3 linked regions of the Homo sapiens genome follow. The protein of the gene in region 3 interacts with the protein of the main gene of each other region in a pairwise test. Each region holds a gene or a part of one and is shown on either strand. Other genes may lie near its edges. The genes, in order: TRAPPC6A, PRKAA2 and IKZF3.

What was found.
Region 1: the proteins of IKZF3 (region 3) and TRAPPC6A interact in binary tests that used the Homo sapiens proteins (3 or more experiments, as listed by UniProt).
Region 2: the proteins of IKZF3 (region 3) and PRKAA2 interact in binary tests that used the Homo sapiens proteins (3 or more experiments, as listed by UniProt).

The regions. Positions count from the first base shown.
Region 1 is NC_000019.10:45,165,217-45,168,273, forward strand, and holds part of TRAPPC6A (trafficking protein particle complex subunit 6A), read right to left. Parts: intron 1-3,057. UniProt on the Homo sapiens protein: May play a role in vesicular transport during the biogenesis of melanosomes.
Region 2 is NC_000001.11:56,648,277-56,651,931, forward strand, and holds part of PRKAA2 (5'-AMP-activated protein kinase catalytic subunit alpha-2), read left to right. Parts: intron 1-3,655. UniProt on the Homo sapiens protein: Catalytic subunit of AMP-activated protein kinase (AMPK), an energy sensor protein kinase that plays a key role in regulating cellular energy metabolism.
Region 3 is NC_000017.11:39,791,174-39,794,828, reverse strand, and holds part of IKZF3 (zinc finger protein Aiolos), read left to right. Parts: intron 1-1,895; coding exon 1,896-2,156; intron 2,157-3,245; coding exon 3,246-3,413; intron 3,414-3,655. UniProt on the Homo sapiens protein: Transcription factor that plays an important role in the regulation of lymphocyte differentiation. Plays an essential role in regulation of B-cell differentiation, proliferation and maturation to an effector state.

The sequences.
Region 1 (3,057 bases), on a different chromosome or scaffold from region 3:
CTCAGGGGCCCTTAGCCACCACGAACCCGGGGCCACCCAGGGGGGGACCTGCCAGGGGACCCAAAGACCAACTTGCTGGTGCTCGTCAGTTCAGGGGTGAGCAGGGAGGGGCTCTGGCACAGCCCGGCCAGGGCAGGGGCAGGCCTCTAGGGTGCTGGGGCTCCCTCACCCACCTCTGCAGACCTTGCAGGCTCTCTGGATCCCCAGATCATCAGCCCCCAAGAACCAGCTCCCCCTTCCCTCAGGAACAATGGGGGTCTTCCCCAGGCTCCCTTCCTCCTCCATGACTTTTCCTGATAACCCCCATGACAGGCTGCACGTGCTTTCAGCGCGAACCCTCACAATGCCCTGGGAAGTGGGCGCTGCGACTCCACCAAGATGCTCCAGGTGACCTGCCCAAGGGCTGGAGGCTGGGCCACAGGAAAGGGGGCTGTGGAAGTCAACCATGATCATCATGCCTTATAATATTGGCCAAGATCCCTGGGGAACACGTGGAAGCTCGGGACAGGCAGATCTTCGTTTGGGTGCTCGAAAAGGACAGTGGCTGCCATGTAGTGTCTGGAGGGTAGGCCAGGGTCCATACAGGAGGGGACTGTGCTGGCAGAGGCAGGCCCCAGGTAGGAGGGCTGCACTCGGTGTCTGTCCACGTGCCTGTGTGTGTGGAGGGCATGGCTGGAGGAGAGGAGATGCTCATGGATTTTTTTTTTTTTAAGAGATGGAGTCTAGCTTCATTGCCCAGGCTGGAATGCAGTGGCCCAATCTCTGACTCACTGCAACCTCCGCCTCCCGGGTTCTAGCAATTCTCCTGCCTCAGCCTCCAGAGTAGCTGGGACTACAGGGATACGCCACCACACCCTACTAATTTTTTGTATTTCATTAGAGACAGGGTTTCACTGTGTTGCCCAGGCTGGTCTCGAACTCCTCAGCTCAGGCAATCTGCCCGCCTCGGCCTTCCAAAGTGCTGGGATTACAGGCGTGAGCCACCGCGCCTGGCGAGTTTTCTTTTTTGGAGACAGAGTCTCACTCTGTTGCCTAGGTAGAGTGCAGTGGTGCAATGCTGGCTCACTGCAACCTCCGCCTCCCGGGTTCAAACAATTCTCCTGCCTCAGCCTCCCGAGTAGCTGGGATTACAGGCCTGTGTGCCACCACACCCGGCTAATTTTTGTATTTTTGGTAGAGATGGGGTTTCACCATGTTGGCCAGGCTGGTCTCAAACTCCTAGCCTCAAGTGATCCGCCCGCCTTGGCCTCCCAAAGTGCTGGGATTACAGGCAAAAGCCACTGCACCTGGCCATGGATCTTTTTTTTTTTTTTTTTCATTCGGGTGTTTTGCTGCAAGCAGAGGAAGGGAGGAGGCCCAGACTGGGGGGCACCAGAAATCCCAGGACGGCTGGGGCGTGAGGCGCCAGGTTTTTCAGAGAAAGCCTGGCAGAGCAGAAGTGGGGGAACAGAGGCGGCAGGTGTGCAGCCCTGAGCTGAAGGAAGCTCACCCTCCCGCTGGCTGCTCTCAGGAGCCTGCAGTCACCAGGCCTGAGCCCTGCAGCCCTCCCTCTCCTGCCCTTGACCCCCACCTTCCCTTGGGAATGGCAGCTACCGCCTCCTCCCTCCAGGGCTGCACCATCAGCGCAGCCATCCGAATGGGGATGCGAATTCTCTGCTTGGCTCCAGCCCTGGAGCGGGTCTCCCAGCCTGGAGAGCGTGTCCGAGGAAGGCTTCTTGCAGCCTGCGGGCCCAGCTGCCTCCATCCCTCCCTCACCCTCTCCTCTGCCCCCTGAGGACATTCGCTCAGACTTCTGAGCCTTTGTACCGACTTCCTTCCCTTCCTCCCTCCCAGCTTGCGTCCCCAGCCCTGCCCACTGCACACTGTCCCTGGATGAGGACACAGCTCTGTGAAGGTGGGGACCCAGGCTGACCAATTCACATCCGGCCTTCAGCAGCCAACACAGAGCTTGGCATGTGGGTGGTGCTTAACAGACTGGCTGATGAGACAACGTGCATCAACAAAGGACACCGTAAGTCCTTACCTAATGCTGTCAACAGGCTCTTGGAAACTATGGCTTTAAGCAAAATGACATATGATGAAACCAATTTCACGCAGGTTAATTAACATAAACAAGAGTGAAGTTCCAATGCCATATTTCTGGTACAAACACATCACCAAACTTCTAAATAAGGATGAAAACACTTGAAATATTAAACACTGAAATAAATGTGAGCTATACATACGTTTAAGAAAGATTAGGCCGGGCGCAGTGGCTCACTCCTGTAATTCCAGCACTTTGGGAGGTCGGAGTTTCGCTCTTGTTGCCCAGGCTGGAGTGCAACGGCGCGATCTCAGCTCACCACAACCTCTGCCTCCCGGGTTCAAGTGAATCTCCTGCCTCAGCCTCCCCAGTAGCTGGGATTACAGGCATGAGCCACCACGCCCGGTTAATTTTGTATTTTTAGTAGAGACAGGGTTTCTTCTCTTTTGGCCAGGCGGGTCTCGAACTCCCAACCTCAGGTGATCTGCCCACCTCGGCCTCCCAAAGTGCTGGGATTACAGGCGTGGGCCATCGCGCCCAGCTGAGTCCAGGAGTTCGAGTCCAGCCTGGTCGACATGGCGAAACCCCTTCTCTACAAAAAATACAAAAGTTAGCCAGGTGTGGTGGCATGCACCCGTGTCCCAGCTACTTGGGAAGCTGAGGCAGGAGGATCATCTGAGCCCAGGAGGTCGCTACTGCAGTGAGCCATGATCATGCCACTGTACTGCAGCCCAGGCAACAGCAAGACCCTGTCTTTTTTTTTTTTTTTTTTTTTTTTTTTGAGACAGAGTCTCGCCCTGTCGCCCAGGCTGGAGTGCAGTGGCGCAATCTCGGCTCACTGCAAGCTCCGCCTCCCGGGTTCACGCCATTCTCCTGCCTCAGCCTCCTGAGTAGCTGGCACTATAGGCACCCGCCACCACGCCCAGCTAATTTTTTTGTATTTTTAGCAGGGACGGGGTTTCACCATGTTAGCCAGGATGGTCTTGATCTCCTGACCTCGTGATTCACCCACCTCGGCCTCCCAAAGTGCTGGG
Region 2 (3,655 bases), on a different chromosome or scaffold from region 3:
TGCTTTTTCTAGGCTCTTCTTCATAAACGTGATCGTTCAATATGTCATCTTTTGTGTCGAGCTTCTTTAACAATGCTTTTGAGATTCATGCATGACATAGCATGTGCCATTAATTTGTTCCTTTTTATAGTTGAATAATATTCCATTGTGTGGATATGCCACATTTTGTCTATACAAAACCAGTTGATGGTCATGGTTTCAAGTTTTGGGCTATTATAAATAATGGCACTACGAATATTCACATGTAAGTCTTTGTGTGGACATATGTTTTCATACACCTTGGGTAAATAACTAGAAGTAGAATTGCTGGGTCATATCGTAGTTTTATGTTTTACTTTTTGAGAAACTGCAACACTTTCCCAAAATGGTCACACCATTTTATAACATTCCCATCAAAGATGTATGAAAGTTCCCTTTTCTGAGTATCTTTGCCAACATTTGTTATTGTCTGCCTGATTTATTATAGCCATTCTAGTGGGTGCGAAATAGTATCTCATTGAGGCATTAATTTTGCGTTTCCCTAAGGACTAATGATGTTGAACATTGTCTCACGTAATTACTAGTCATTTATGTATTTTCATTGATGGAATGTCTGTTTATATCTCTTGCTTATTTTCTAATTGGGTTACTTGTCATCTTATAAGTTGAGTTGTGAGGATTCTTTGTAAATTGTGGATACAGATCCTTTAATGGATATATTTTGCAAATATTTTCTTCCAGTCTGTTGTGTCTTTTCATTTTCTTGTGTCTTTTGAAGTATAAAAGTTTTGAATTTTCATGAGGTCCAATTTATTAGTTTTTAAAATTATTTTATGGACTATGCTCTTGATGTCATAGGCAAGAAATCTTTGCCTAGCCCAAGTCTCAAAGATTTTCTTTTATGTTTTCTTGTAAATATTTTATTATTTTAGCCCTGATGTTTAACTATGTGATCTATTTTGAGTTAATTCTTATGTATGGTGTGAGATGAGGTTGTAAGGTTAACTTTTTCCATGTGGATAACCAATTGTCTCAGCAGTTTTTGTTGAATGCAGGTGCATTTTTAATTGTTGTAGATTTTAGACATTGCAAAATGAATTTCTACTAAAAAAGCTAATAGGAGATGATGTAATTTTAAAAGCTTGGCCAGGTGTGGTGGTCCATGCCTGTAATCCTAGCACTTTGGGTGACCAAGGCAGGAGGATCCCTTGAGCCCAGGGGTTCAAGACCAGCCTGGGCAGCATAGGGAGACCCTGTCTTTGATTGATTGATTGATTGATAGAAAGATAGATAGATAGATAGATAGTTAGATAAATGGTTATAAAAACATGGAAATGGAGAAGTAAGGAACATTTTATGTGCTTTCTCTCTTGACTTTTTTCCTTTTTCTTATTTGTTTATTAATTAGTTTTTTTTAGGGACTATGTTGACCAGGCTGTTCTCAAACTTGTGGCCTTAAGCAGTCTATCTGCCTCAGCCTCACAGTGTTGGGATTACAAATGTGTCCCACCATGCCCAACTTTGACTGTTATGCTAATTATAGATTTAGAAATTTTAGGCCAGGCACGGCGGCTCACGCCTGTAATCCCAGCACTTTGGGAGGCCGAGGTAGGTGGATCACTTGAGGTCAGGAGTTTGAGAACAACCTGGCTAACATGGTGAAACCTCATCTCTACTAAAAATACAAAAATTAGCCAGCTGTGATGGTGCGCGCCTGTAATCCCAGCTACTTGGGAAGCTGAGGCAGGAGAATCACTTGGACCCGGGAGGCGGAAGTTGCAGTGGGCCGAGATTGTGCCACTGCACTCCAGCCTGGGTGACAGAGCGAGACTCCGTCTTAAAAAAAAAAAGAAATAAAGAAATTTTAACTTCAGTTGTTGATATATCAATTTATGGACCAAAGTTAGGGACAAAAAGCAAAAATTGAAAATGGAATAGTTTTAACAGCAGTAGTTTTAATTTGTTTTTTAAAAGTATATGGAAATCTTTGTATTTGTTAATAAAGCCTTATTTAAAATGTTTTAAATTTTGTCCTTCATTAGTCTATTGTATTATCAGGTTGCTGAGGGACTGTTTTTGGAAACAGATTATATGGGCTGACAGAGTTTAAAAGTAATGCTTTTTATCTATTTAAAATTTTTCTCTATATTGACTGTTTAGGCTCTCACTCTGGGTAGGGTAAAACTGTTAGAGAGTTCTTGTAATTAGACTTGTTCATTTCTTATCTAACTTCTCTAAAGGTGATAGAAATTCTAGAAGAATGGTCCTGTTGTTTGTGTTATATAAAGACTGATTGAAGAAACAAAATTATAGTGCTAATTATTTATTTAAAAAGAAGCCTGCATTTTCAAGATGAGTAGTAGTATATATGTGGTTTATGATTTAAACAAATTTTTTTCAACATTTTACTCCAGAAATATGTTTACCCATATGTGGTTTATGAAATAAATATTCTTCATTGGAATTGTACACCAAGGGATACTTAGGTTCTTTCTTGTCGGCAAAGTCTCACGAAGAAGTTACCCTTTCCATTTTTCAAATAGTTACATGACTGGCCTACAGACTGCTTTCAATAAATTAAGTAAATATTTTACTAATTCCCCACTTGTTTTTGAGATAACAGGAAGGATAAACCAAAACTTAAACAAACAAACAAAAAGTGTTACCTTATTTTGAAATGTAAATATCAAGTCCTAAATGATAAATCAAATTTCACACAACTGTCCCATCAATTGATGGAGCTAAAAGTTATGTCTGTGGTATTTTGGTCCCTTGCTTGACTTGTGTGCTAGTGTGGAAGCCCTGAACAATTTAACTCCCTGGGCCTTGTTTTCTTCCCCTCCTAAAGGATAACACTGGAGTAGCGAATCTGTGAGGTCCTTTACAATGCTATCATTAAACCGATTTTTAAAAGATTTAACTCCAAAAAAATGGGTATATTTAATTATTCATCCTGGTTAATGAAAATTTGAGTTCCTGAGTCTGAAATGTAGATGTAATGTAGAACAGGGGAAAAGGAAACATATTTTCAATACTTCAGTGATAAAAGGTACAATTTGATTAAGTTGTTACTATATTCTAATCACTGTATGATATATGCACTTGATTTTTTTTTATTCCCAGAGTAATCCTCTAAGTTTGGTATTATCTCCATTTAACAAATGAAGAAATTGAGAATCAGATACTTTAAGTAACTTGTCCAAAGTTCCAGTGCTATTAAGTGGTAGAGCTAGCAATCAAATTCAGGGTTCTCAGACTGCAAAGTCTCTGCTCTATGGACTGTAAAGTCAAAATGCCTAGTATGTTCTGAGTTTCAAACCTACAAGGATATAATTTTCTATGTCTGCTCATATTTATCAGAATTGAGAAAATAAGATTTAAATGTCTTTCAGTCCATATTTAGAGATAAATAACGTTTTTTGAAATGCCATATATAGATGATTAAAATTTATATTTTTACTTTTCCAACATTTACTTGGATGCCTCAATCTTTCATTTCTTATTATAAAATGTGCTGAATTCTACCAGTTTTAACCCATGTTTATTAGAAATACTAGTGATTTCAGTGTGTTTACTGATATGAAAGTAATCTTTTTTTTTTTTTTGAGACTAGTCTGGCTCTGTCGCCCAGGCTGGAGTGCAGTGGTGCTATCTCAGCTCACTGCAAGCTCCGCCT
Region 3 (3,655 bases):
GGTGCATCCTTCTCTTAAAAAAATAAAAAATAAACACTTAAGCAAACAAATTCCACTTGAAAGCAGGGAAGACCTATCCAGAGAAAGAAGTAAACCTCTTTCCAAGTAGGAAACAGATATCATTTCTTATATAATCCAGATCCATAGGGTGGGCAAATTTGAAACATGTTGGACTTATCCTACAGCCCTACATCTTTGCTAGTCAAAGAGTGAAAAGTTGTGAACCATGAACTGTGGTAGGAAGCAGTGGAACTGTGTGGCAGCCCTGGCTCCTCTGATGGTGGTTAGGCCCTGTCTTGCTCTATTAAGCAAACACAGTTAATATAGATGAAAGGTAACCTTGATAGAAGTGAAAATTGAAACTTGGGTTGAAGGTAGCAAGCCAGGCACAGCTGCAGTTGTACTTCCTCCTATGCAGCAAGAGGAGCAACACTTACTGATGTTTTTTGGAAGGGATGTAGTTTTTTAAAATATCTTTTTTCAGACTGTTTTGGGTTTTAACATTTACACCATTGATGGGAGGGTGTGTAATACAGTTGGTAAGAACCCACTTAGGCCTTATATGTCTAGTGCATGAGGTCAAATCCAAGTAATTGATAGTTCAAGCTTAAGTTTTGCATTCTAATCACACCTCTGCCAGTAACTGGATGTGTAACCTTCGACAAATGACCAAAAACATCTCTGCTCCCAGATTTCCTCATCTGAGAAACAAGAGGGTTGGATTAGATGACCTTTAAATTCCCTTCCAGCCCTACACTCCATTGATTTGTGATTCCTCATGGGGAGGTACAACTTTTGATTTCTAAGGACCAATGGTTGAAAAAGTAAGCATTTATATAGCATATTTTATATATGCAAAATCCCTTACAAATGTTTATTATTCTTACATCAGGCAAATTTTTAGGTTTTACTAGTGTCAGTGCAAGTACATAAATTTGCCTTCTTTGTTTCTTATGTTCTTCATATTTTTCCCACGTTCTTCATATGTTCTTATGCTCTTCATGAAGAGTATTACAGCTCTTCTTTTAAATTTCATTCATTTACATTGCAGTTCTTAAGATAGTACTTGGTCAGCCAACTCACTTGAGCCAGTCCCTCCTCTCCTATCCAGTCCTATTACACAATCCTTGAGTCCTTGAGTTTAGTTCTCCCTAACTTGGGACCTAATGGTCCTTCCCCTTATTTAGATTGAGCCCCACTTACCTGTGTCGATGAAAGTGACTCCTTAGGTTATATGAAAGAATTACTTTTCCTTTTGTCTTTCTCAACACTTTTTCATTAGTACTGACAACTTCCTCTACAGTCAATGTTGTGCCTTTATCAGCTCCAAGAGAGACAGAGATAAGATGTGTTTTAGCAATTCATATACGTGGAAGGGGAAGAGGCAATGCATGGCTTAAAATTAGAAAAACTATGTTAACTAGTCAACTCTTAATCTTAATGGCTTACACTGGATGCATCTGAAGGATTCAAACAATATTTTCTCCTTGAAACCTAAGAGTACATCACCTTGCCTTTTTAACTGCAGCCACCAAAAACAGTACTAGATCTGAGAACCCTTCCTCTCCCCTAGTACTGGAGAAGAGTTGCTCAATGTTTGTTTCATGGCCACTTTGAGCAAACTTAGCTAAAATCTATTATCTGTAATTTTCTGGATAGCCTAAAACACTATCGTCTATTTTTATGTGTGTAAGTATGTGTGTTTTCCTCTGACTGTGGTTCTGAATTTAAATAACGTGCGGTCACGCTAATGGTGCTTTCTTGTTTTGTAGATGTACAGTGTTTTGTTAGCTTCGATTGGTATTTAATTGTCAGTTGTGGGTCTCTGCTGTTTGAGCTGCTTTGATAGCTTCAAGTATAGTCGTTGTTCATTTCTTGCATTTTCTTCCCTGCAGATGATTCAATGAAAGTGAAAGATGAATACAGTGAAAGAGATGAGAATGTTTTAAAGTCAGAACCCATGGGAAATGCAGAAGAGCCTGAAATCCCTTACAGCTATTCAAGAGAATATAATGAATATGAAAACATTAAGTTGGAGAGACATGTTGTCTCATTCGATAGTAGCAGGCCAACCAGTGGAAAGATGAACTGCGATGTGTGTGGATTATCCTGCATCAGCTTCAATGTCTTAATGGTTCATAAGCGAAGCCATACTGGTAAATAGTCTGCTTTTTTCATTCTTCTGAAAACTCTCCTAATGCAGCCACGTGAGAAATGAAGTGGTGGAATTTGGAACTTTTGGTTACTTTCATTGATTTTTGCTATAATGCTGATGTATCTCTCTCTCTGCATTGCTGTTCACTCAGTGCTTTTTATTCCTGCCTCACCATGCATTTGGCAAACATATTGCAAATGCTATGAATAAAAAAAGACTGTAGAGAGCACAGTGTTCTAGGTCAGCCAAATACTTTTTCTTCAGTTTCTAAGTAGGAGTTGAATTGTGTGATTTGCTTCTTAGCCATCTTTTGTATATTTTTGCATAACATTTTTAATAAGAGCAGATCTTCTTATTGTATTGGGTTCAAATTTGGTAAATGAAAGGACATAGTTTTTATTTCCAGCTTAAAATAATGTATCTTCAGACAATAAACAGGTAGTCTATAGAAATGCATACAAACACAACCATCGCACTTGAGCCAGTCGATTCCATCCCATATCTCATATGAAGACTTTAAAAAGGAGAATTTCTAGCCCTCAACACCTTGTAAGGACTTTAGTTTCTGGCTCTTTTTTCAAAGGAGATTATATTCAAAAGGAATACTAAAAAATTAGCCAGGCATAATGGCAAACACTGGTAGTCCCAGCTATTCTGAAGGCTGAGGTGACAGGCTCACTTGAACCCAGGAGGTCAAGGTTTCAGTGAGCCATGATGGGACCATTGCACTCCAGCCTGAGCAACAGAGCAAGAAGACCCTGTCTAAAAAAAAAAAAAAAAAAAAAAGGGAGTACCAAGTAATATAGTAATATAAAAACTTAGATCTAGAAAGCACTTCTAGAGCTGCTCTTGTTTCTTTGCTCTGATTCAATATGATACCTAAAATAGCCTTGCTAGTGGGTGCTTTTTCTCTTCTACAGAGGAGATTTCATAAGTAAGTCTTAGGCTTGCCTTGAAATGCAGCTCCCAACTGATCCCAATGTGAACAGTAATTGTCTAAAAGATGAGCTTTTCCCCTAGGCATCTAATCTGTGCATATGTTTCTCCACTTGCCTGTGACCAGAAATCTCCTTTTTTGTCCTTTTTAAAGGTGAACGCCCATTCCAGTGTAATCAGTGTGGGGCATCTTTTACTCAGAAAGGTAACCTCCTCCGCCACATTAAACTGCACACAGGGGAAAAACCTTTTAAGTGTCACCTCTGCAACTATGCATGCCAAAGAAGAGATGCGCTCACGGGGCATCTTAGGACACATTCTGGTAAGTGAGAGAAATGAGCATTCCTTGTCTAGGAAGTGCATTCCTCAGAGCCCAGTGTGGAAACTAGAAAGAGTTAAGTAGGAAGGTTTCAATCTGTCATTCTTGTTCTGAAGGGTTACAACAGCAGAGACCTCTAGGGCTAATTACACGACCATTAAGGCACTAATTGCTCTCCGTCTGCCTCAGTGGAGATGATCATCTCCTCACCATCCTTGCACCCATGGAGAACAACACAGTCAGAT